Homo sapiens: one gene and its partners. The protein of the gene in region 1 interacts with the protein of each later gene in a pairwise test. Each region holds a gene or a part of one and is shown in the gene's direction. Other genes may lie near its edges.

Evidence for each region.
Region 2: the proteins of DLG3 (region 1) and KDELR1 interact in binary tests that used the Homo sapiens proteins (3 or more experiments, as listed by UniProt).
Region 3: the proteins of DLG3 (region 1) and EIF4H interact in binary tests that used the Homo sapiens proteins (3 or more experiments, as listed by UniProt).

What each region holds. Positions count from the first base shown.
Region 1 is NC_000023.11:70,496,617-70,504,035, forward strand, and holds part of DLG3 (disks large homolog 3), read left to right. Parts: intron 1-563; coding exon of another isoform or gene 564-605; intron 606-1,903; coding exon 1,904-1,954; intron 1,955-2,559; coding exon 2,560-2,661; intron 2,662-3,260; coding exon 3,261-3,433; intron 3,434-3,854; coding exon 3,855-3,964; intron 3,965-4,281; coding exon 4,282-4,373; intron 4,374-5,546; coding exon 5,547-5,653; 3' UTR 5,654-7,419. UniProt on the Homo sapiens protein: Required for learning most likely through its role in synaptic plasticity following NMDA receptor signaling.
Region 2 is NC_000019.10:48,381,858-48,388,753, reverse strand, and holds the end of KDELR1 (ER lumen protein-retaining receptor 1), read left to right. Parts: intron 1-4,271; coding exon 4,272-4,524; intron 4,525-5,426; coding exon 5,427-5,461; 3' UTR 5,462-6,179; downstream 6,180-6,896. UniProt on the Homo sapiens protein: Receptor for the C-terminal sequence motif K-D-E-L that is present on endoplasmic reticulum resident proteins and that mediates their recycling from the Golgi back to the endoplasmic reticulum.
Region 3 is NC_000007.14:74,176,965-74,184,383, forward strand, and holds part of EIF4H (eukaryotic translation initiation factor 4H), read left to right. Parts: intron 1-7,419. UniProt on the Homo sapiens protein: Stimulates the RNA helicase activity of EIF4A in the translation initiation complex. Binds weakly mRNA.

The sequences.
Region 1 (7,419 bases):
CTGAAGCCAGGCTCTCCTGCTTTGGAGTGGTGGCAGGAAGGCTGGGGAGCCCACCGAATGGTCAGAGCAGCGCTCCCTGGTGTCTGCTTAACCCATCCAGCGTTTGGCCTCTTAGTTGTGGAGTGCCACATGGTTCTGTACTTCAGGGGCTCTGTTGGGCGGGGGACACCCATGAGCAGACTGGTCCCTGGACTTCTCTTTGCTCCTGTCACTGTCTTTTCTTTCCTGTTGTTAGCCTTGGGAGATGCATTTTGAAATACGATTTGGAAACCATCCAGGTCAATTTGATTCAGATGAAGAGGATGCTGCTGAAGGAAGTATGGCTTGTAGTACATAGGGAGGGACTTGGCAGACCAAGAGGGCTCTGGGGACAAGTACGAGAGGGCCAGGGGCTCAGGATTGGAGCTGTGCCTCCCAGTTGGTAGCCTGGATGTGGCAGGCCTCTGGTGGCCTGACTCAGTTGGCAGCTCAGTGTCTCGCTCCTGGAGCATTTGAGTTTTGTGCTGCATGTGACCTCTCAGTGGTGTGTTCTGAATTGGAGTCTCTTTCTTGTTGGCTTGCAGAGGGAGTGACATCCAACACCAGTGACAGCGAAAGCAGTTCCAGTAAGTGTGTGTCATTCCTTCCATGTCGTGTAGCTCCACTGTGTATCCCAGCCATCCTCATTCCAGTGTTGCACAGCTGCCATTGCTGCTCAGAGGCTGGTGCTTCTTTTAGCCATGTACACTTTGAGATCCTAGAAATGCTGTGGCCAGTTCATTCTCCTTATGGGTTGGGGTTCACCCCATGGATTAAAGGAGAGTATAAGCCCTATAGTGCTGGCCGGGACCTGACTTAAAAGCATCCCTGGCACTGGGAAGGGTAAACTGCCAAAGAGTAAATCCCTGCCATGGGTACTGTGGGCCATAGGTGCTGCCAGGTTTATAGATTTGCTCAGAGACCAAAAGAAAAATGGCTCCTCTAGGACACTGCCCTAAATCTGCCTTTCCAGGTCATTAGGACCTCTTTGCCTTTGGGGCCAGTTAAAGGATGAGGTAATTGCCAAGTTCTCCTTGGGAGATCCTGTGACCAGACCAGAGAAACCGTAATTCAAACCTCATGAACTTTGGGAGCACTGGTTTTTCAGGAGCTATGGTGGCTAGAAGCCTTGTAAAATCTGCCCAGGAATATTAGGCTCAGAAGAAGCCTTTTAGCAAGCATTGTGTGCCTTGATGCAAATATCACTGTTTTCCCTGGGACTGCCATCAGCCACTTTGGGACCTCCAGGCACCCAGCACCGAGTGGCTTGACGACTGTTTTAGGAAAACCTCAACATTGCTAGGCTCGACATGGGGCTCCACCAGGAAGAGACAGCAGGTTCAGCATTGCTCTTAAAGGGCACTGGGGACCTTAGCAGAGCCATGTGCCACTTTTCTGGATGCTGCTTCCAATGCAGGAGGTGGGTTGGTAGACCTTTAAAAGGGCAAAGTTAGGCTGCTTGGGGACCTGGGTGTGTGCCCTGACTCCCCTGCATGTTGATGAAGGGGACTCGGGCAAGCATCTCAACCAGTCAAAGTGTCCCTGTCATTCTTACCAGAGCAAGGGGGCTACTGCACACAGCTGACTTGTTACCTACAAGAAGAGTTCCTCACAAATTGGGGTGGTTTGGGGTGGAGGCTTCATGGCTTCTGGGCCTTGGCCCTTTGCCCAGTGATATTTCACTGAACAAGAGAACTGCTGACTCCTGTCTCAGAGCCAGTGAAGGGTTTCATGTGCTTTCTCACCAGCAGAAAACAGAAAGGATCACAGGTGGTGGCAAGGACCACCTGATAAGGCTGTGTCCTGGCAGGGGAGGGGTACGGGGAGTACTGTACAGAAGGAGGCAGATCATATGGTGCTAACCTATCTCTCTTTTTTGTTGCAGAAGGACAAGAGGATGCTATTTTGTCATATGAGCCAGTGACACGGCAAGAAAGTAAGCCTCCTCTGAGAGCCTTGTCTTCGTGCTGGTCTCCTGGTCGTGGGGCTCAATACAGTGGGTGGCTGTGGCAGCAGAGGGAGGGACCTGGAGGAGGAGGAAGGCTTGACTCATGGCACATCCAGCCCCTGGGCTCCTTCTTCTCTATGCTTCTTCCTAGTGTCATAGGGAAGGGGGTGCATCCAGTGTGCACTTCTCTCTGTGCCTTTGCCTGCTGCCAGGACACCTTCCAAAGGAGGGGGCAAATTTACAAGGAAAGTCTATTTCAGTAGATGTAGCCACTGCTAAAAGAGAGGTCCAGGTTCTTCCCTTCAGTGGCTGCTCTGCAAAAACCTTGCTCAGTTACTGGTGTCAGTGCAGAGATTTTTTCTGACTCTGTTAGAAGGGGAGCAGCTTCCGGTTTCAGACTTGCCTTGAACTTAGATATTCTCAAATTAAAGGCTCTTTGATGTCTTTCTGTTTAAAAGCCAGACAATGTCTGAGGATGCTTTACCCTGTCTGAGTCTCTGCTCCAGAGCCTCTGTGTTCTAGCCAGACTCAGGGGTAGGACAGGCTGTCTGGTGGGGGCCTCTGTTCACTGTCTCGATGCTCTCCCTCTCTAGTTCACTATGCAAGGCCTGTGATCATCCTGGGCCCAATGAAGGACCGAGTCAATGATGACCTGATCTCCGAATTTCCACATAAATTTGGATCCTGTGTGCCACGTAAGAGTCCAGGAAGGCCCAGAGGAGTGAGGCTTGGTGCCCTGGGAATTGTTGCTCTAATGTTTTATGGAAAAGGTCTGGGATCAGATTCTAGGGCTATTTGGGGACAGGGTACATTTGACACGCTGGAAAACAGTAGGTGGCAATATATTCCCCAAAAGCTGATGGGGTTGGAGAGATTAAGCCATCAGGCTTGGCTGCTCACTCTTGAGGGGAAGTTTCAGTGGTGATGGTTGAGAATGATTGGACAAATACGGAGGCCCAGCCAAAGTGGTGTTGATGTGACTCCATTAACAGTTTGTTAGGTTCACTGTCTCCTCTACCAAGTTTGGCACCCTCTGCCATGCTTTAGCTCAGGAAACCCCACCTTTCTAGTCCAGTTTAAGCTAAAGCAAATAGCCCCCTGTGTGAGACCTGGAGATTGGAAGAGAAGTAGGCCAGACAAACCGCTTCCCAACTGCTTGTTTTCTCCCACTTACTTGAAAAAAAAAATGGAGTGGCCCAGTGACCCACCCAGATGAGAATGGACCAGTCAGTATTTTTTGGTTTGGGGCGGATCACTGCCCCTGGGCCACAAAGCATTTCCTTTCTTCCTTCAGATACTACCCGGCCTCGACGTGATAATGAGGTGGATGGACAAGACTACCACTTTGTGGTGTCCCGAGAACAAATGGAGAAAGATATTCAGGACAACAAGTTCATCGAGGCGGGCCAATTTAATGATAACCTCTATGGGACCAGCATCCAGTCAGTGCGGGCAGTTGCAGAGAGGGTAAGTGTACAGGAGATGGCCTCAAAGGGGAGGCCAATGCTTATGCCAAGGTTCCACTTGGATCCTTATCCTTCCAACACAGGAGCTGCCCAACAGTGCTGCTGACCAAAGCCATAGCACATCTGCATACTCCCAGCGCCTTGACGAAGCTATCTGTCTCCTTCATACAACTCACCCCAGAGCATTACCCAACAGGGAATAGGGGGCCCTGGACAGATGTGGCCTTTTCTGGGTAATAGGAGCAAAAAGTAGGGCCTGTCTACTTCAGAGATCGAATTTCTTAGGCCACTTTGGGTGGCCCTCGTGCCCCTCCCCTCACCCCCACCCCCGGCCAAGGTGGATGTTTAGAATGTCACTGGATTTCTGCTTGGGACTTGGTGAATAGGGAGTGGCTGGGCTGTTACAATCTCTGCTTTTTCAGGGCAAGCACTGCATCTTAGATGTTTCCGGCAATGCTATCAAGAGACTGCAGCAAGCACAACTTTACCCCATTGCCATTTTCATCAAGCCCAAGTCCATTGAAGCCCTTATGTAAGTGTTGAACTGAGAACTCAGACACACCAAGCTAAGATCGGGTCTGGAAGGGAAATGGAGAAGAAAGTGATTTGCTGGGCAGAAACTTGAAAGAAACTCTGTGCCCCAGCTCTGGTCACTGGGCGCTCCTGTTTTGAGGGCTTGTGCATATGTTCATGGTTGGACTTTTGAACGCAGGTTTGAGGAGTTAGCTACGGGCCACTGCTGCTCTGAGAGGGCAGCTTAGCAGATTTTTAGGGATCCTGGAATAATCCTTTATGGTTAATCAGAACATAAGATCTGGTTCAGAACTATTTTTCTTCTGTCTTTGGCAGGGAAATGAACCGAAGGCAGACATATGAACAAGCAAATAAGATCTATGACAAAGCCATGAAACTGGAGCAGGAATTTGGAGAGTACTTTACAGGTAAGACTCCTGCTGCCCTGCGGGGGGTTCTGGGGAACTAGCCAGGTACCTGTTTCTATAAGTGTCTCAAAGAGGTGTAGACAGAATGTAGAAACCTTGCACGGAGTTTCCAGTTGCTTTTAAGTTTTTGAGCACAAACCTTTCCAAAGCACACAAGTTCCCCGTGTCCAGCCATAGCAGTTCAGCCAGTTTATAGCATAAACCACTCACCAAATGCTTCCTTGAATTGTTGGTTTGTTCATTTTGTCTTGTCCTTACTAGATTGTAGGCTCCCTGTATTACTCTGTCTCCCTCCGTTTCAGCTCCACTCCCCCTCCCCCAGTACTTTGCTTTGCATGTTTAGGTGCTGAATAAACGTTTGTTGATGATGATGATTCCTCGGTGTGCTGTTCAAGTTGTCTGTTGGGGTGTCTGTCTGTCTGTCTGTGTGTGTGTGTGTGTGTGTGTGTGTGTAAGGTCAGTTCCTGAAACATTGGGAAGGTTTCTATGTAATACGTTCTTCACCTTTTGAAGTACAGTGACATATATATACATAAATATATGCAAGGCAGTGCCGAATCCATTCTAGCTGGTGGTGACACTAGGTTAACTGTGTAAAGAATTCATAAATGTCCTCACACACCTTGGGTCTTCAGAGCTCCCTTTACCATCAGCATCCATGTCCTTGTTTGCTGGGCTGACCTCTGACATACAGCAGATGTGATGGGCCCAGGAGCGCTGCCTCTTGCCAGAAATTGTGGCTTTCAGTTCTTTCTGTGGAGAACTGCGATTTTCCAAATCTTTTAGTAAGGCTGCTTTAGAATAACAAGCTGCTGGCCTTATGGCACCCAAGAACAACATGAACTGCAAGGTCTGGCACATAGTGGGTGCTCAATAAACATCTTTTGAATAAACACATTTTTCTGGTCATTACTACTTAGTCTCACTGTCTCAGTGAGTTGACTTCAAGCCCTGGACTTGGGGTACCTTGTTGGTTGCCCTTACTGCCCTGAACACACAGGCAGCCAGCCAGTGAACCCAAGCCCAAACCCATACTCCTGGGAACATGTCCTTCATGTGAGGGGTGAGGGGGTGGAGGGGGGACTTGTAGGATTGTTGGGAGAGGCAGGATTGCTGGGTTTGGGGGATGTGCTATGGACCACAGTAATAATTTTGTTTTCCTCTTCACTTTAGCCATTGTACAGGGTGACTCACTGGAAGAGATTTATAACAAAATCAAACAAATCATTGAGGACCAGTCTGGGCACTACATTTGGGTCCCATCCCCTGAAAAACTCTGAAGAATCCCCTCCAACCATTCTCTTGTGAACAGAAGAAATCAAGTCCCTCTTCCCTCCTCCCTCTTCATTCCTGTCCCCATGGGGAGAACAAATGCTACTGTTCTTGTCCCCTTTTTTAGATATGTCAAAAAAAATTAAGTTTTCTAGTCCTGTTCTTTTTTTTTTTTTAAGTTTTTGTTTGTTTCAGTTTATTTTTTGGGATGATGCCATCTCATTCATCATGTGACTGTGCCCATTCCTGCATGGACCTTTCCCAAGCGCTAGCACAGGTGCAAAATCCATCAGAGCCATTGTTTTCATAAAAACCAAGCAGAAGTGAAGAGAAAAGAGGAGGACTGATGGAAAGACAGACTCTGGACAGCTGCACGGCTTGTGAAGTGAGCTAAATGCACCACATGATGAGATGCTCCTGGGCATTTCTCCCTATCTGTACTGCTGTCTTGCAGCTCTGAACGGTGCAACGTAATGGCGACAGAAAGTATCTTATTTATATATAGATATATATATGTAATTTATATAAAATATATAGAAATTATTATATATATATATTATACACTCTCATATAATATATATATATTCACACACATTTGGGTTAGAAAATCTATGGAGACTTCATCAATGGTACTATGTTATTAGAGAAATGCTTTAATTTTCATATTCCAATCAGATGGCATCTTCTATCCCAGCTGGTTGGGAAGGGATTGAAGATGGTAGCAAGTGCTGCACTAAGGGCACTCGCATTTGGTCATTCTCTTGAGAGCTAGGAGGGGTCAGCCTGAGGCCGGAGAGGAAGGGCTTTTGCCTGGGGTGAGAGGGTGAGAGACTTGACCTGAAAGCAGCTGCTGCCCCTGAGGTGCAGCCAGAGTCCTGTGTGCGGACAGAGAGAATGGCTAATGATGCTCCGCGTGGAATTGCCTATTGTTTTATGCCACCTGATGTGTCTGCATGAGAGGTTTCCTTTTTGTTCCTTTTTAAGCTGCTGTTAAACCAAAACCATGTTGTGCTACTGTGTCAGCCTTTTCATTATTGCAAATTTTACTTTTACTATTTAAGTGAATGCATAGAATCCAATTTGCCAAGGTTCTAAAGGCTTATGAGGTCCTGAAGGAGCCAGGCCTTGTGATGGAGTAGGTGACACAGGCCTGGTTGTCCTGTCAGCAGAAGGGAAAGCAGGGGCTGGGCTGAGAGGAGGACACGGAGGGCTCTGCTGAGGTTCCTTCCTGGGTTCCACCAACAGGGACAGGGAGTCACTTGCCTTCCAGTTCTGTGCTGGGATGGCGGGACAGCACTTGGCTTGCTTGGCCAGCTGCGTCATGAGTTTGATTTGGTTTTTTTTTTTTTGCAGCTGCTTCATATGCTCTGCTCCAGCCCCTCCCCAACAGCTGGTAGCTTATGGTTTCTTCAAGAGGAAAGTAGACTTTATGCTGTACATTTGAGCTGTAGAGCTAAGATTCGCTTACTGGTGAGCTGTGAAACCTTGTTGCTTTTTCCCAGAGTCTGATGGCAGTGACTGTGATCAAGGGAATCTTCACCGCCACAAGTGCAGGCAGCAGGTGTGGTTCAGGTCCCCCCCCACCCCACTGTGCTCCTTTGAAGCCAACGTGCCTCCCTCGCCTCCATACTGGAGGGACGACGCAGGGGAGAACAGAGAAGTGCTTGGCCCTAGGATTGAGGCACTTGTTTCCTAGCCCGCTGGGTTAGGGCTGGTGCAAGCGAGGCAATGTTGAGGATGCTTTAAGCACTACCAGCCGAATCCGGGAACTCTG
Region 2 (6,896 bases), on another chromosome or scaffold:
TCTTTCCTTCCTTTCTTCCTTTCTTCCTTTTCTTCCTTTTCTTCCTTTCTTTCTTTTTTCCTTTCTCTTTCGACAAAGTCTCGCTCGGTTGCCCAGACTGGAGGCAGTGGCATGATTCTGGCTCACTGCAACCTCCACCTCCCAGGTTCAAGCGATTCTCCTGCCTCAGCCTCCCGAGTAGCTGAGATTGCAGATGCCCACCACCAAGCCAGGTTATTTTTTGTATTTTTAGTAGAGACAGGGTTTCAACATATTGGCCAGGCTGGTCTCGAATTCCTGACCTCAGGTGATCCACTCTCCTCAGCCTCCCAAAGTGCTGGGATTACAGGCATGAGCCACCGCGCCCGGCTCCAAATCTGCTAGTTTCTATTAGCATGATCCCGTGCATGTGACTTGACCTCTCTGTACCTCGGTTTCCACATTTGTAAAGTTGTGATCAGGTCATTGTGAGAATTTACTGAGACTTTGCAGCACTGCCTGGTGTCAAAACACATAAAGACTCTAGAATCAGAGTGTAAGGATTTGGACCCTGCCTCTACCATGTAGCAGCTATGGGATTCTGGGCAAATCACATAACTACCCTGTGCCTCAGTTTCCTCATCTGTAAAATGGAGATAATCAGTTCCTATGTCATAGGGTTCAAATGAGAGGTTGGTATTAATAAAGCACAGTATCTGGGATGAGGTAGGAAGTGCTGTGTCAATCAATGTTCAATGACTGAAGTGTTTAGTCCCATCTCTGATACTTTTACTTTTAAATGTTCGCTGTTAATGATTTTTATTCCATGGTGTTTTGCTGGGACCTGTACAAACTCCTGGGAGGAATTTTGCGAGAGCCAGTGCTAAGTTTGCGATCTCTTGCCTCCTGGGGCCTGGCAGGAATCATAAATTCAGGGTAACCTTTTCTTACCTGTGCCCACTCCTGCCTTATAGGAAGATAGGCCTGGGTGGCCAGATGTGCTGATCTTTTCAACAGAAGCCATAATTCAGGAGTTTTCAGGCAAGATGTCTCATTTTAAAATTTTAGCCACAGATTCAGACTATATTTCTTTTTTTTTTTTTTTTTTCTTTTTTGAGATGGACTCTCATTCTGTCGCCCAGGCTGGAGTGCAGTGGCACGATCTTGGCTCACTGCAACCTCTGCCTCCCAGGTCAAGCGTTTCTCCTGCCTCAGCCTCCCGAGTAGCTGGGATTACAGGTGCTTGCCACCACGCCTGGCTAATTTTTGTGTTTCTAGTAGAGATGGGGTTTCACCATGTTGACAGGCTGGTCTTGAACTCCTGGTCTTAAGCAATTCTCCCATCTCAGCTTCCCAAAGTGCTAGGATTACAGGCATGAGCCACCGTGCCTGGCCTTCAAAACATATCTCTAAAAGCACTGTATAGGCCAGACAAATCCAACAGAGGGTGACTTTGGCCCATGGGTCAGAGATATCAGAGGGAGGCTGCATCATGCTGTGGTGGGAATCCTGGGCTTGGCTCCAGGCCCTGGACTTTGCAAACATATTGTTACCACCTTGCTTGGATCACTTATCCAAGCCCTTGACTTAGCTCATAACTGCCCTGTTGACTAGGGATTACTAGACCCATTTTGAAGATGGGGAGACTGAGGCTGAGGGAGGTAGTGCGGCTTGCTGAAGGTGGAGGAGGCCAGACCAGAACCCAGGCGTCTTTTTTTTTTTTTTTTTTTTAAGTCTTGCTGTGTCACCCAGACTGGAGTGCAGTGGCACGATCTCTGCTCACTGCAACCTCTGCCTCCCAGGTTCAAGCAATTCTCGTGCCTCAGCGTCCCGAGTAGCTGGGATTACAGGCATGAGCCACCACACCCAGGTAAAATTTTTTTGTATTTTTAGGAGAGACAGGGTTTTGCTATGTTGACCAGGGTGATCTTGAACTCCTGGCCTCAAGTGATCCACCTGCCTCAGCCTTCCAAAGTGCTGGGATTACAGGTGTGAGCTGCCGTGCCTGACCTAAGGAAAATATTCTTTAAAAATTCAGACATCAGGCTGGGCGCAGTGGCTCACGCCTGAATCCCAGCACTTTGGGAGGCTGAGACAGGTGGATCGTGGATCACGAGGTCAGGGGTTCAAGACCAGCCTGGCCAAGATGCTGAAACCCCCTGTCTATTAAAAATACAAAAATTAGCCGGGCATGGTGGCATGCACCTGTAATCCCAGCTACTCGGGAAGCTGAGGCAGGAGAATCACTTGAACCCGGGCAGCAGAGGTTGCAGTGAGCTGAGATCGTGCTACTGTACTCCAGCCTGGGTGACAGAGCAAGACGCCATCTCAAAAAAAAAAAAAAAAAATTCAAACAGCATGGAATAGATAAAAATGCAAGACTGGGCGCAGTGGCTCACGCCTGTGATCCCAGCACTTTGGGAGGGTGAGGTGGGTGGATCACTTGAGGTGAGGAGTTCAAGACCAGCCTGGCCAACATGGTGAAACCCTGTCTTTACTAAAAAAATACAAAAATTAGCAGGGCGTGGTGGTGAGTGCCTATAATTCCAGCCACTTGGGAGGTTAAGGCAGGAGAATCACTTGAACCCGTGAGGTGGAGGTTTGCAGTGAGCCGAGATCGCGCCACTGCACTCCAGCCTGGGTGACAAGAGTGAAACTCGGCCTCAGGAAAAAAAAAAAAAAAAAGCAACAGACCTTCTGTCTCTCTTTAAACGGTGACTCTGTTCCCTAAGGGCAACCCCAGGGGTGAGAGTTGAATGGGCATCAATTTAATGGGTTCGTTTCCCAGCAGCATCAACTAACCTGGCTTCACGAGAGCCTCCCTGGAGGATTCTGGATGATTCTGGGAGCAGGTCCTGGACTCTACGTGCTTCAGTGGGAATCTGGACACGTTTCTTATCCTTTGGGCCTCAGTTTCCTCATCTGTAGAATGGGAATGACAACAGTACCTACCTCATGGGGTTAAGGCTCAGGCCAGTTAACACCCTAAGGAGCGATGCCTTGGATGTCGTAAATGCTAGAAAAGCATGAGTTGTTATGAATAGGTCCTGGTGCCCCCCACCTTCCTTCCACAAACCAAGACAACCAAGGAGCCACACCTGCCACCTGGCTTTGCTCTCTGAGGTTTCAGTGTGTCTGCAGATCACAGATCACCCCAGGTGGCACTTTCAGGGAGCTGGGGACTGAAAGGGGGCTGGCAGATGTCTTCTTCCCTGTCCCATGATGTCCTGTCCTGCTCATGAATGATGGTTGTCAGTGCTCCCTAAATGGTGGCCTGTGCTGAGCACATGGGGACCCCTTTATAGATGCTAACTCCCATTTCCTCACTCATTCAGGAACTGTGCTAGGTGCTAGGGCCACGGGGTGAACAAGAAGTAGGATCCCAGCCCTCACAGAGCTCAATTGCTGGTGCGAGTGGCCAGGAAGGAGATAAGATGGGGTGATGTGACAGTCCTGGGGGAAGGATGGCCAGGGAGGGTCCCTCTCGGGAGGTGACTAATGAGCTGAGGCTGGGAGAATACGGAGGAGGCAGATGTGTGACAGTGTAGGGGAAGAGCTTTTCCTGCTGTGGGAACAGCATATGCAGCCTGCCACAAGAAATGGCATGTGGGCCCGGCACGGTGGCTCATGCCTGTAATCCCAGCACTTTGGGAGGCCAAGGCAGGCAGACCACCTGAGGTCAGGAGTTCGAGACCAGCCTGGCCAACAAGGCAAAACCCTGTCTCTACTACAAATACAAAAATTAGCCGGGTGTGGTGGTGGGCACCTGTAATCCCAGCTACTCAGGAGGCTGAGGCAGGAGAAACGCTTGAACCCAAGAGGCAGAGGTTGCAGTGAGCCGAGATCACCCCATGGCACTCCAGCCTGGGTGACAGAGTGATACTCCATCTCAAAAAAAAAAAAAAGAAAAAGAAAAAGGAAGGGAAATTTCCAAGGCAAGATTCCAACCCAGCCTGCCTTTCAGAGAGGCGCAATTGCAAAGTGTTCATGAGAACGGACTGCGAATCCTTGGTTCGAATCATTGCTCTGCTGCTTGCTGGCTACATGGTCTTGGGCGAGTATCTTACCTTCTCTGGTGTCAGTTTCCTCATCTGTAGAATAAGTGTGCTAATCATAGGATCTCCTCGCCGGGCCATGGTGATGATTAAATCAGAGGTACCAGTAACTCGGGCAGAACTGTGTCTGGCACTTGGCAGCACCTGGATCACCTTCCTTCTCTCCACCTTCGCGGCACCTGTAACTGCAATGTTGTCCTCTGCCTTTTCTCCCGCCCTGTCCCCTCCCACCTCATCATGTCCCCGGCCTCTCTGCAGATCCTCTGGACCTTCTCCATCTACCTGGAGTCAGTGGCCATCTTGCCGCAGCTGTTCATGGTGAGCAAGACCGGCGAGGCGGAGACCATCACCAGCCACTACTTGTTTGCGCTAGGCGTTTACCGCACGCTCTATCTCTTCAACTGGATCTGGCGCTACCATTTCGAGGGCTTCTTCGACCTCATCGCCATTGTGGCAGGCCTGGTCCAGACAGTCCTCTACTGCGATTTCTTCTACCTCTATATCACCAAAGGTAGCTGGAATGTGGGACGGCTGGAAGGGAACCTCCTATTTCTGCAGCTCCTGCCCTCCCTGGGGACTGGGGTCTCCTTACCCCTGTATTATGCAAAGAAGGGAGCATTTCTTCGCCGGGTTTCTGGGGTGGCAGGCCTACCATCCTCCTAGGAATTCAGACCGTTAGCCTCTGCCTCCCTAAGGGCTAAGGAGTTTCTGTCCTTAGCCCCCATGTCACTTGGAGCGTAGGCCAGGCAGGGCAGGGACTCAGCCCACTGAAATTCATTCATTTATTCATGCAACAAATGTATTGAGTACTTTCTATGTCCCCAGCCAGGTGCTAGGCTCTGGGGATACATTAGGAGGAGAAAAGATAGACAAAGGCCTCCATTTCCCTTTTATTCTGGTGGGGGAGATGGTGAATGAACAAGTAAAGAAAGAATTAGTTGGGCATGGTGGCTCATACCTGTAATCCCAGCACTTTGGGAGACTGAGGCAGGGAGATTTCTTAAGCCTAGGAGTTCCAGAGCAACATAGCAAGACCCTGTCACTATAAAAAATAAAAAAATAAAAAAATTAGCTGGGCATGGTGGTGCACGCCTGTGGTCCCAGCTCCTTGGGAGGCTGAGGTGGGAGAATTGCTTGAGGAGGTCAAGGCTGCATGGAGCTGTGACTATGCCACTGCACTCCAGCCTGGGCTACAGAGTGGGACCTTGTCTCAAAAAAAGAAAGAAAGAAAATTGCCAGTAGTGAGAAAGGGTAGGAAGGAAAGAAACCAGGAATGTATCTGTGAGTCCTGGGGGACCTCCCTCCCTGTGGATCTGCCCATCTAGCGTGCCTGCCCTGCTCTGGCTGTGGGAGGCTGTCCCCTCCCTGCAGGGGCCCCAGCGGTAATGCCCTCCCTGTTTTCTCTCCTCACAGTCCTAAAGGGGAAGAAGTTGAGTTTGCCGGCATAGCCCCGGTCCTCTCCATCTCTCTCCTCGGCAGCAGCGGGAGGCAGAGGAAGGCGGCAGAAGATGAAGAGCTTTCCCATCCAGGGGTGACTTTTTTAAGAACCCACCTCTTGTGCTCCCCATCCCGCCTCCTGCCGGGTTTCAGGGGGACAGTGGAGGATCCAGGTCTTGGGGAGCTCAGGACTTGGGCTGTTTGTAGTTTTTTGCCTTTTAGACAAGAAAAAAAAATCTTTCCACTCTTTAGTTTTTGATTCTGATGACTCGTTTTTCTTCTACTCTGTGGCCCCAATTTTTATAAAGTGTTTTTGAGTGTCCTATGGGCCGGGGCAGGGTCCAAGATCTTTTCCCTTCCCCAGGCCCCTCGGCTCCCTCCCAGATCCCACCCCCAGCCCCACTGGTTGCCAAACACTAAATCTGCCGACACCCATCTGCCCCACCTCCTGCCATGGCCATGAACCGCGACCCCCACTAAATTTCTAGATTGGGGATAGGGAGAAAGGGAGGCCCAGGAAGGTCTCCCCTGATTTTTTTTCATAGTAATTTTTTTCCCCAGAGTTTGAATTTTTTGGTCTTCTCCTGGTTTTTTGGCAAATTAGGGGGGCCCGGGGCTCAAGTGCGGGAAGGGGGCTGGCCCGAGGATCCCATGGCTCTCACACCATGTTTTTGTACAGAACTGATGGTTGAATCTTTGTTCTCTTGAAATAAACAGAAGAAAATGAAACCTTTCTTTTGCTGCTCCTTGCCACTCTGTCCCTGGTGTGTATGGGGTCCCGCCCCCGCCCCTCTTTCTGCTTCTGCTTTTGCCTTATTGACTATCTGTAGGCGACGAGGCCTAGGAGGAGCAGGAAGAGGAGAAACTGGGTCTCCCAAGACTCTCAGCTGTGCAGTTCCTCGCCGTGCTGCTGGGAAGAGGTTTTGGAGAGAATCTTGAAGAGTCTTCTTACCTTGGCACAGAACTTGTCTGATGGTTCTCCAAACCCTCAGGGTTGCAGAGGACCTTCAGGAGAATTGGCTGGGCATGGTGGCTCATGCCTGTAATCCCAGCACTTTGGGAGGCTGAGGCGGGCGGATCACCTGAGGTCAGGAGTTTGAGACCAGCCTGACCAACATGGCAAAACCCCGTCTCTACTAAAAATACAAAAAAAAATTAGCTGGGCGTGGTGGTGTGCCCCTGTAGTCCCAGCTACTCAGGAGGCTGAGGCAGGAAAATTGCATGAACCCAGGAGGCGAATATTTCAGTGAGCCGAGATCACACCACTGTACTCCAACCTGGGCAACAGAGTGAGACTCCATCTCAAAAAAAAAAAAAGAGCATGTATGTCAGGGACCACACATGGGCAGCCCCCGTCCTACCCTCACTTGACATTTTTTGTTGAGGCATTCTGTTTCCTTAAAAAAAGAGAATGGGTCGCTAGCCTTTAAAAACCAGATTTTCACA
Region 3 (7,419 bases), on another chromosome or scaffold:
ACAAAGCTATGAGTGCTTAGTGGAAAACCACCGATCCTGAGAATTAGGGTGGAAATTGGAGGTGGCAAGAATTGAGGTGGCTGAAATGGTGCCATCTAAAAACTGGCAAAACTCCAAATTTATTCTTTATCAGGATTCAGTTAGGGAGTTTAGAATTCTTTTTTAAATAGAGATGGGTTTCACTATGTTGCCCAGGCTGGTCTTGAACTCTTGGACTCAAGTGATCCTCCCGCCTCAGCCTCCCAAAGTGTTGGGATTACAGGCATGAGCTACCACGCCCAGCCTAGGAGTTTAGAATTCTAACCTTTGAATCTTTAAACTTAGCATGTCTGTCTAAATTTCTGAGCATATTTTTATCCAAAATTTTTATGGTGGTAAAATATACATAACATAAAATGTGCCACTTTACCCATTTTTCAGTATACATTTCAGGGATATTGAGTGTATTCGTAATGTATAACCATCACCACTATCCAGCTCCTTAACTCTTACAGCTTGTAAAACTAAAACCCTGTCCCCTTTGAATAGTAATTCCCTATTGCCCTCCTTCCCCCAGGTCCCTGGCAACCACCATTCTACTTCCTGTCTCTGAGCATATTTTAAGATTTGTATGTAATAGGAAGGAAAGCAGTGTATAAAAACTACAGCTAGTTTTCACTGATGCTAGGGCCTGTAAAGCTATTGAAAAGCTTATTTTAAAATGCTGTTTACATGTCAAATGTCAAGTCGTTTAGGTTTGTTATCCTTCTTCACTCCAAGTGTTCCATTGCTTAGTTCCAAACCATTATCCTCTATGAAAAGTGTTACCAGAAATATTTGGATTTGCTAAGAGGTCTCTGCATGACGGTTCATGTAAAAGCCCTGGCTTTGGAATAAGGCAGACCAGAGTTTCATCAGTTCAGCCATGTGTTAGTTGTGTGATCTGAAGTAAGTTTCTTCACCTCTCTGAGCCTCGTTTTCCCCACATATGAGTTAGAAACATGTATTTATTTATGAAATAGGCTCTCCTTCTGTCACCCAGGCTGGAGTGCAGTGGCAGGATCATAGCTCAGTGCAGCCTCGACTTCCCAGGCTCAAGCCATCCTCCCACCTCAGCCTCCCAAGTAGCTGGGATTACAGGGTGCGCCACCATGCCCAGCTAATTTTTGTATTTTTTTGTAGAGACAGAGTGTCTCTATGTTGCCCAGGCTAGTCTCAAACCCCTGGGCTCAAGGGATCTTCCTGCCTCAGCCTCCCAAGGCTCATTGTGTGAGCCACAGTACCCAGCCTTCAATTTATGTTTCTATTAGAAATTAAGCTTTGTGGCTGGGTGCAGTGGTTCATGCCTGTTATCCCAGCACTTTGGAAGGCCGAAGCAGGCGGATCACTTGTGGCCAGAAGTTTGAGACCACCCTGACCAACGTGGCAAAACCCCATGTCTACTAAAAATACAAAACGGGTGTGGCGGCACATACCTGTAATCCTAGCTACTTGGGAGGCTGAGGCAGGAGAATTGCTTGAACCAGGGAGGCGGAGGTTGCATTGAGCTGAGATCATGCCACTGCACTCCTCCAGCCTGGGCGACAGAGAGAGACTGTCTCCAAAAAAAAAAAAAGAAAAATTAAGCTTAGTGTTCTGGAAAGACTTCACAATTTTAAGGAGTCTCCCTGGAAGCTTAGAACGTACAAAGCAGACTCTGAATGTCTTTCCAGGATCACACTCTGGCTTCCAGCTTCCCCTGGAAGGTTCAGGAGAGTATTTGTCGCCTGGTTGCTTTTACATCATGCTGATTAGACCTGCACACCCGGGCATGAAATGAGTGTGATTGCATCATTTTCATAGAACCTAATGGCAGCTGTATGTACGTCTAAGACTTCTTTTGTGTAAGTCGAATGTTCTTCGAAGTTTCCCCACGTCATGATTTATGTGATTTTCCGTCTTGATCAGGACCTTCTGAAGGAGCTCAAGTATGTGGCTGCTCCACGGTTGATGAGTCTCTGGTTAAGCATGGCCTTCCAGTTCAGGGCTAGGGGGGCCGTCACCTCCCTTTGTTCTGCACATTCTTCTCCTGTCTTTCATGTATACTCACATTTTTGGAGCCTTCTGTGTACTCACATTTTTGGAGCCTTCTAAATGTCTGGCTTAATAGAACACAGCTGGATTCTCATACCTGCATCTGTCTCCACTCTTGGAATGTGTTGCTTTGGTTGACTTTTATGGAGCAGCTCAATCCTTGCACAGATAAATAGTTGGAAATGGGAGGAGTAATCAAATAATTCTGGATATTCATATTTGATTCTATACCAAAACTCAATAAGCAGTAGTTTCTATGAAGGTTAGTTGCAATGTGAAACCTAAAACCTTATCAATAAACTCTTCATACTTTTACATTAGAGTTCATCATTTGGCTGGGCGCGGTGGCTCACTCCTGTAACCCCAGGACTTTGGGAGGCCAAGGCGGGCGGATTACCTGAGGTCAGTAGTCTGAGACCAGCCTGGCTAACATGGCAAAGCCCCATCTCTACTAAAAACACAAAAACTAGCTGGGCATGGTGGTGGGCCCCTGTAGTCCCAGCTACTTGGGAGGCTGAAGCCATAGAATCACTTGAACCTGGGAGGTGGAGTTTGCAGTGAGCCCAGATTGCGCCACTGCACTCCCGCCTGGGCGACAGGGTGAGACTCTGTATCAAAAAAAAAAAAAAAAAGTCACTTTATCTTGTACTCCGACTGGATCCTTTACCAGTGCATACATTTGTAAGGTGTTGGTGATTTGGAAAGGACCTGTTCACTGAGCCAGGCAGAGCCATGCAGATGTTCCAGATGTTGGTACATTTTGTTATACAGTATCAAAGTCACATTCACCATAGCTGTTAGAAAAGTCTCTGAGTATTGAAAGACTGTCAGGCTTATGTTGATGGATACAGGTTTTCCGAAACTCTTTTTTGCTTGAAAGCTTAAATTTTACCATTGGCAACAAATACTGTTATTTTGGCCAGGTGCTGTGGCTCATGTCTGTAATCCCAACACTTTGGGAGGCCATGGCAGGAGGATCACTCTAGCCCAGTCTGGACAATATGTCCAGACCTGGTCTTTTCAAAAATAAAATTAGCTGGTGTGGTGGTATATGCCTATAGTCCCACCTACTTGGGAGGCTGAGGCTAGAGGATCACTTGAGTCCTGGAGATTGAGGCTGCAGTGAGCAGTGATTGCACCACAGCACTCAAATCTGGGCAACAGAGCAAGACCCTGTCTCAAAACAAAAAACCCAAATACTGTTCTTTTACTTCAAGGAACAGACTTAACTTCATTTTTAAAAAACTTAGTACCCATGTCTGAATTAACCATAGTTTGTTCTATAGAAAGAACAGCTAGTTCAGCTTGTAGCTCAAGTGCTTTTCCTGCAGCAGCCATCATGCTTGTGTATGCAGCAGAAGTGCTTTGCGTGTTTCATAACATAGGGTACTAAAAAGTGGGTCACGATTCATTTTTACTGCTTTACCAAGGATATTCCTAATTGAAGCTGTGATTTTTCTTCCTATTTTAAATACTTCAAGTGCATGGTGGGAAAGCATGAGTAATGTAGTTTGATGCCCCTGCCTTCGTTTGTATTAACACAAAGACCTGTTGTGAGATCAGTATAGGTCTTTGCTTTATAAATGTGGAATATTGTGAACCATTCTGGGAACCATATTTTAAGGCATCAGCACACTGGAGCCTATGAAGAAGAAGGTGATAGTGGGGATGGCCAGGCTCTGAAACTTCATCTTAGGAGGAAGGGCTGAGCAGCTTCAGTGAGGACCTTCGAAAGAAGCCTCAGCAGCAGTGATACAGCAGCTCTTAAGTCTCTGGGACTGCTGAGTGGAAGAAAGGTGTGGCCCTCCAGGCCAGAATAGGACCAAAGGATTACATCTTGGCCTTCTTCAGAGACTGCACAAATGTAAAGAACTGCTGCTTGAGCTAAATAATTGTTTTTTTAATAGAGACAGGGTCTCCCTTTGTTGCCTAAGCTGGTCTTGAACTAGCCTCAAGGGATACTCCTGCCTTGACCTCCTAAAGTGCTGGGATTGCAAGCATGAGCCACCACGCCCAGCCTCAACCATTTTTAAGTGTACAATTTAGTGGCATGGAGTACCTTCATAGTGTTGTGTAACCATTGCCACTATCTAGTTCCAGAACCTTTTCATAATCCAAACAGAAACTCTATACCCACTAAACAACTCCATTCCTTTCCCAGTTTTAACCTCATAAACATTTTGGCTATTTCTGTTACATCTATCTTCCCTACTTTTGGGTGGAGGTGTGGGCTAGGATAATTTAAGGCTAATCCTAGTCACCTATCCTTCTAAAATAGTTCTTATTTTTTTAAATTTTAATCCTCATCTTTGTGTTGGTAAATATTACATACTTTAGAGCAATTTTTGTTTCAATTTTTATGGCTACCGTAGTAGATGTATCTTATATATTCTTTCTTTGTTTTTTTTGTTTTTTGTTTTGTTTTGTTTTCTGAGGCAGAGTTTTACTCTTGTTGCCCAGGCTGGAATGCAGTGGCACTATCTCGGCTCACCACAACCTCCGCCTCCTGGGTTCAAGCGATTCTCCTGCCTCAGCCTCCCGAGTAGCTGGGATTACAGGCATGTGCCACCACACCTGGCAAATTTTGTATTTTTAGCAGAGATAGAGCAGAAACAGAGGGTTTCTACATGTTGGTCAGGCTGGTCTCGAACTCCCGACCTCAGGTAATCTGCCTGCCTCGGCCTCCCAAAGTGCTGGGATTACAGGTGTGAGCCACCGAGCCCGGCCTTTTTTTTTGAGATGGAGTCTCACTCTGCCTCCCAGGCTAGAGCTCAGTGGCGCGATCTCAGCTCACTGCAGCCTCCGCCACCACCCCTCAGCCTCCCGAGTAGCTGGGATTACAGGCACCTGCCACTGTGCCCAGCTGATTTTTGTACTGTTAGTAGAGATGGGGTTTCACCATGTTGGCCGGGTTGGTCTTGAACTCCTGACCTTGTGATTCATCCGCTTCAGCCTCCCAAAGTGCTGGGATTATAGGTGTGAGCCACCACACCCGGCCTCTTACATACTTTTCATACTTGAGTATGTTTCTAACAGATAAGGGCTTCTTTTTTTTCTTTAACCAACAGTTTTTCCAGTACCCAGTGTTCAGTTTTTCCCAGTTTTTGCAAAGATGACTTTGTATAGTTGGATTGTTTGAATATGCAAAACATTACAGAAAAATGTAGAAAATTTAGAACACGAACCAAAGCATAATATAGTGACCTGTATACCCATTACCTACTCTTTAAGTGACCACTCTTCTCTATACTACTATGGTTTATAATAGGTAGTATAAATGGTATTTATCAAAGGCTTGACCTTTGAAAGCTTAACCATTTTTGATGATTGTCAAAAACCCAAATGTTACCTGTTTGTAGATATGGGGTTTTGCCGTGTTCCCCACGCTGGTCTCAAACTCCTGAGCTCAAGTGATCTCCCCACCTTGGCCTCCCGAAGTGCCGGGATTGCAGGTGTGAGCCATGGCGTCCGGCCAGTCATTTTCTTTGGTTTACACTACTTTACCCTTCTGGGCCCTACTTTCCCCAAATGAGAGCTAGAAACTCCTCTGTTGGGAGGTTTAAATGAGATGTGTCTCATAATTTGGAGGCATAGTCTTGCCCTGTTGCCCAGGCTGGAGTGCAGTTGCACAATCACAGTCCCAAAGTGCTGGGACTACAGGCCGGAGCCACATGCCCATGCCCAGCCTTGAGCACTCAACTTTCTGTTGCATCTACTTACTGGATACATCCCTACCCTCATAACATCTACTCTGTACATTGGCTTCTTTTTATAGTTACCCTCTCTCAGTCTCCTTTGACACCTACAGATCTTTTCTGGCTCACCCTAAGGGTTCAGTATTGGCCCCATCTGCCATCTGGAAGTGGAGTCCCACTTCTGTTGCTCTCTGCTGTGCTGCATATCCTGGCTCCCAACTGCTCCACCCTGGTGAAACTGTTCTCATTGCTATCTTCCAGATTTTCTGCAGTCCTTTGCTTGTGACGTGATTTCTCCTTTCCAAATTATCAGCTCCTTGAGGGCAGAAACCGAGTCTTAGGTTTGTGCCTTCTCTACATTCTCTCCACCCTTCATAGACATGCAGATACGTGGTTGATTTGAGTAAGGAAAAGTGATTTGCCTGTCAAGGATTTTAGTCACACTTGGAGCCGAAAGTAGGGTTTCCTAAATTACTGAGGCTGTAATTGACTACTTTAATCTTTCATAATCAATAGACTGTCCCTAATGGGCAGTAGAAAGGACACTGCTCAGTAGTGGCAGGGAGTTTGCAGCACAGACCTTGACTTCAGGTGTCCTGAATTGGCACGCTCTGCTGATCTGTTCCTGTTCTACACGCACTCCTGCCAGCCCAGTGTAGCCTCAGGCCTGTTGGGTCTACCCAGGAGCATGGCAGAATTATATAGCACTTGGTACTTAGGAAATGTTTTTATGGTCAGTTTTAAACTTATAAAATCAAGATTGAAATATAACAGACAAGAAAACATAGGTACAGAGGTAATTTGGCAGAGGTCCTACATCAAGCTAGCTAAGGTGTCAAGTGAACCTGTTCTCCCATGTGTTGTTATTGATCTGTGTAGGAATGTACTGAATTTCACGAAACACAGCTTATTTATTTAGGTAGTAGTCCCCCAAACTTGAATCTAGTGAAAGGTGGCAGACATTTTAGCTCAGAGTTTTCTGACATTTGATTTTGTAAATGAATCGGTGGGTAACAGATCTGTGTCATCCTATGTGATGTGATGTGATGTCATCCTATGTGATGTGTACTCTGGGGTACTCACATCCTATGTGATGTGTCTCAAGTGACTGTCACACAGTGGACACTTTACCAGTGCTAGCTTGAATGAGGTCTACCTCCATGGCCCAGCCCTGCTGCCCCCTAGTGATTTCATTGAATGGGATGAAAAGGTAAAAAGTGCTTAAGACCTGTAGAAGGGACTACATCAGGTAGGGTATGGGAATATTTAGGACTACTTTGGTAATTATTGAAAAGTCTAGAGTATTAAGCCACTGGTGGTTTTGTGAGGCACGAGTGAGTTGAACAGTTTGGTGGGCTTTGGTGTATCTTTGCTCCAGAATTATATCACCAGTTAGCTGTTAGGTGCTGCCATTTGGTAACGTGCCAACTTTTCAAAAATGGTTTGCCCCAAACTAGATTTTTCTATCTTCTCCAAAGCCAGAGCCACCTTCCTGTCCTAGTGCATTTTTAGCAGTGCCCCGTCATCTTACTGGCATTCACCTGGGCTTCCTGTGCTCAATCAGGGGTCAAGTCTGGCCTGATCTCAGTTCCACAGTTCCTCTACTCTGTAAGTTCGAGCACAATTAGCAAGCCTTCGCACCTCCATTTTCCTTACTTAGCAACTACATCAA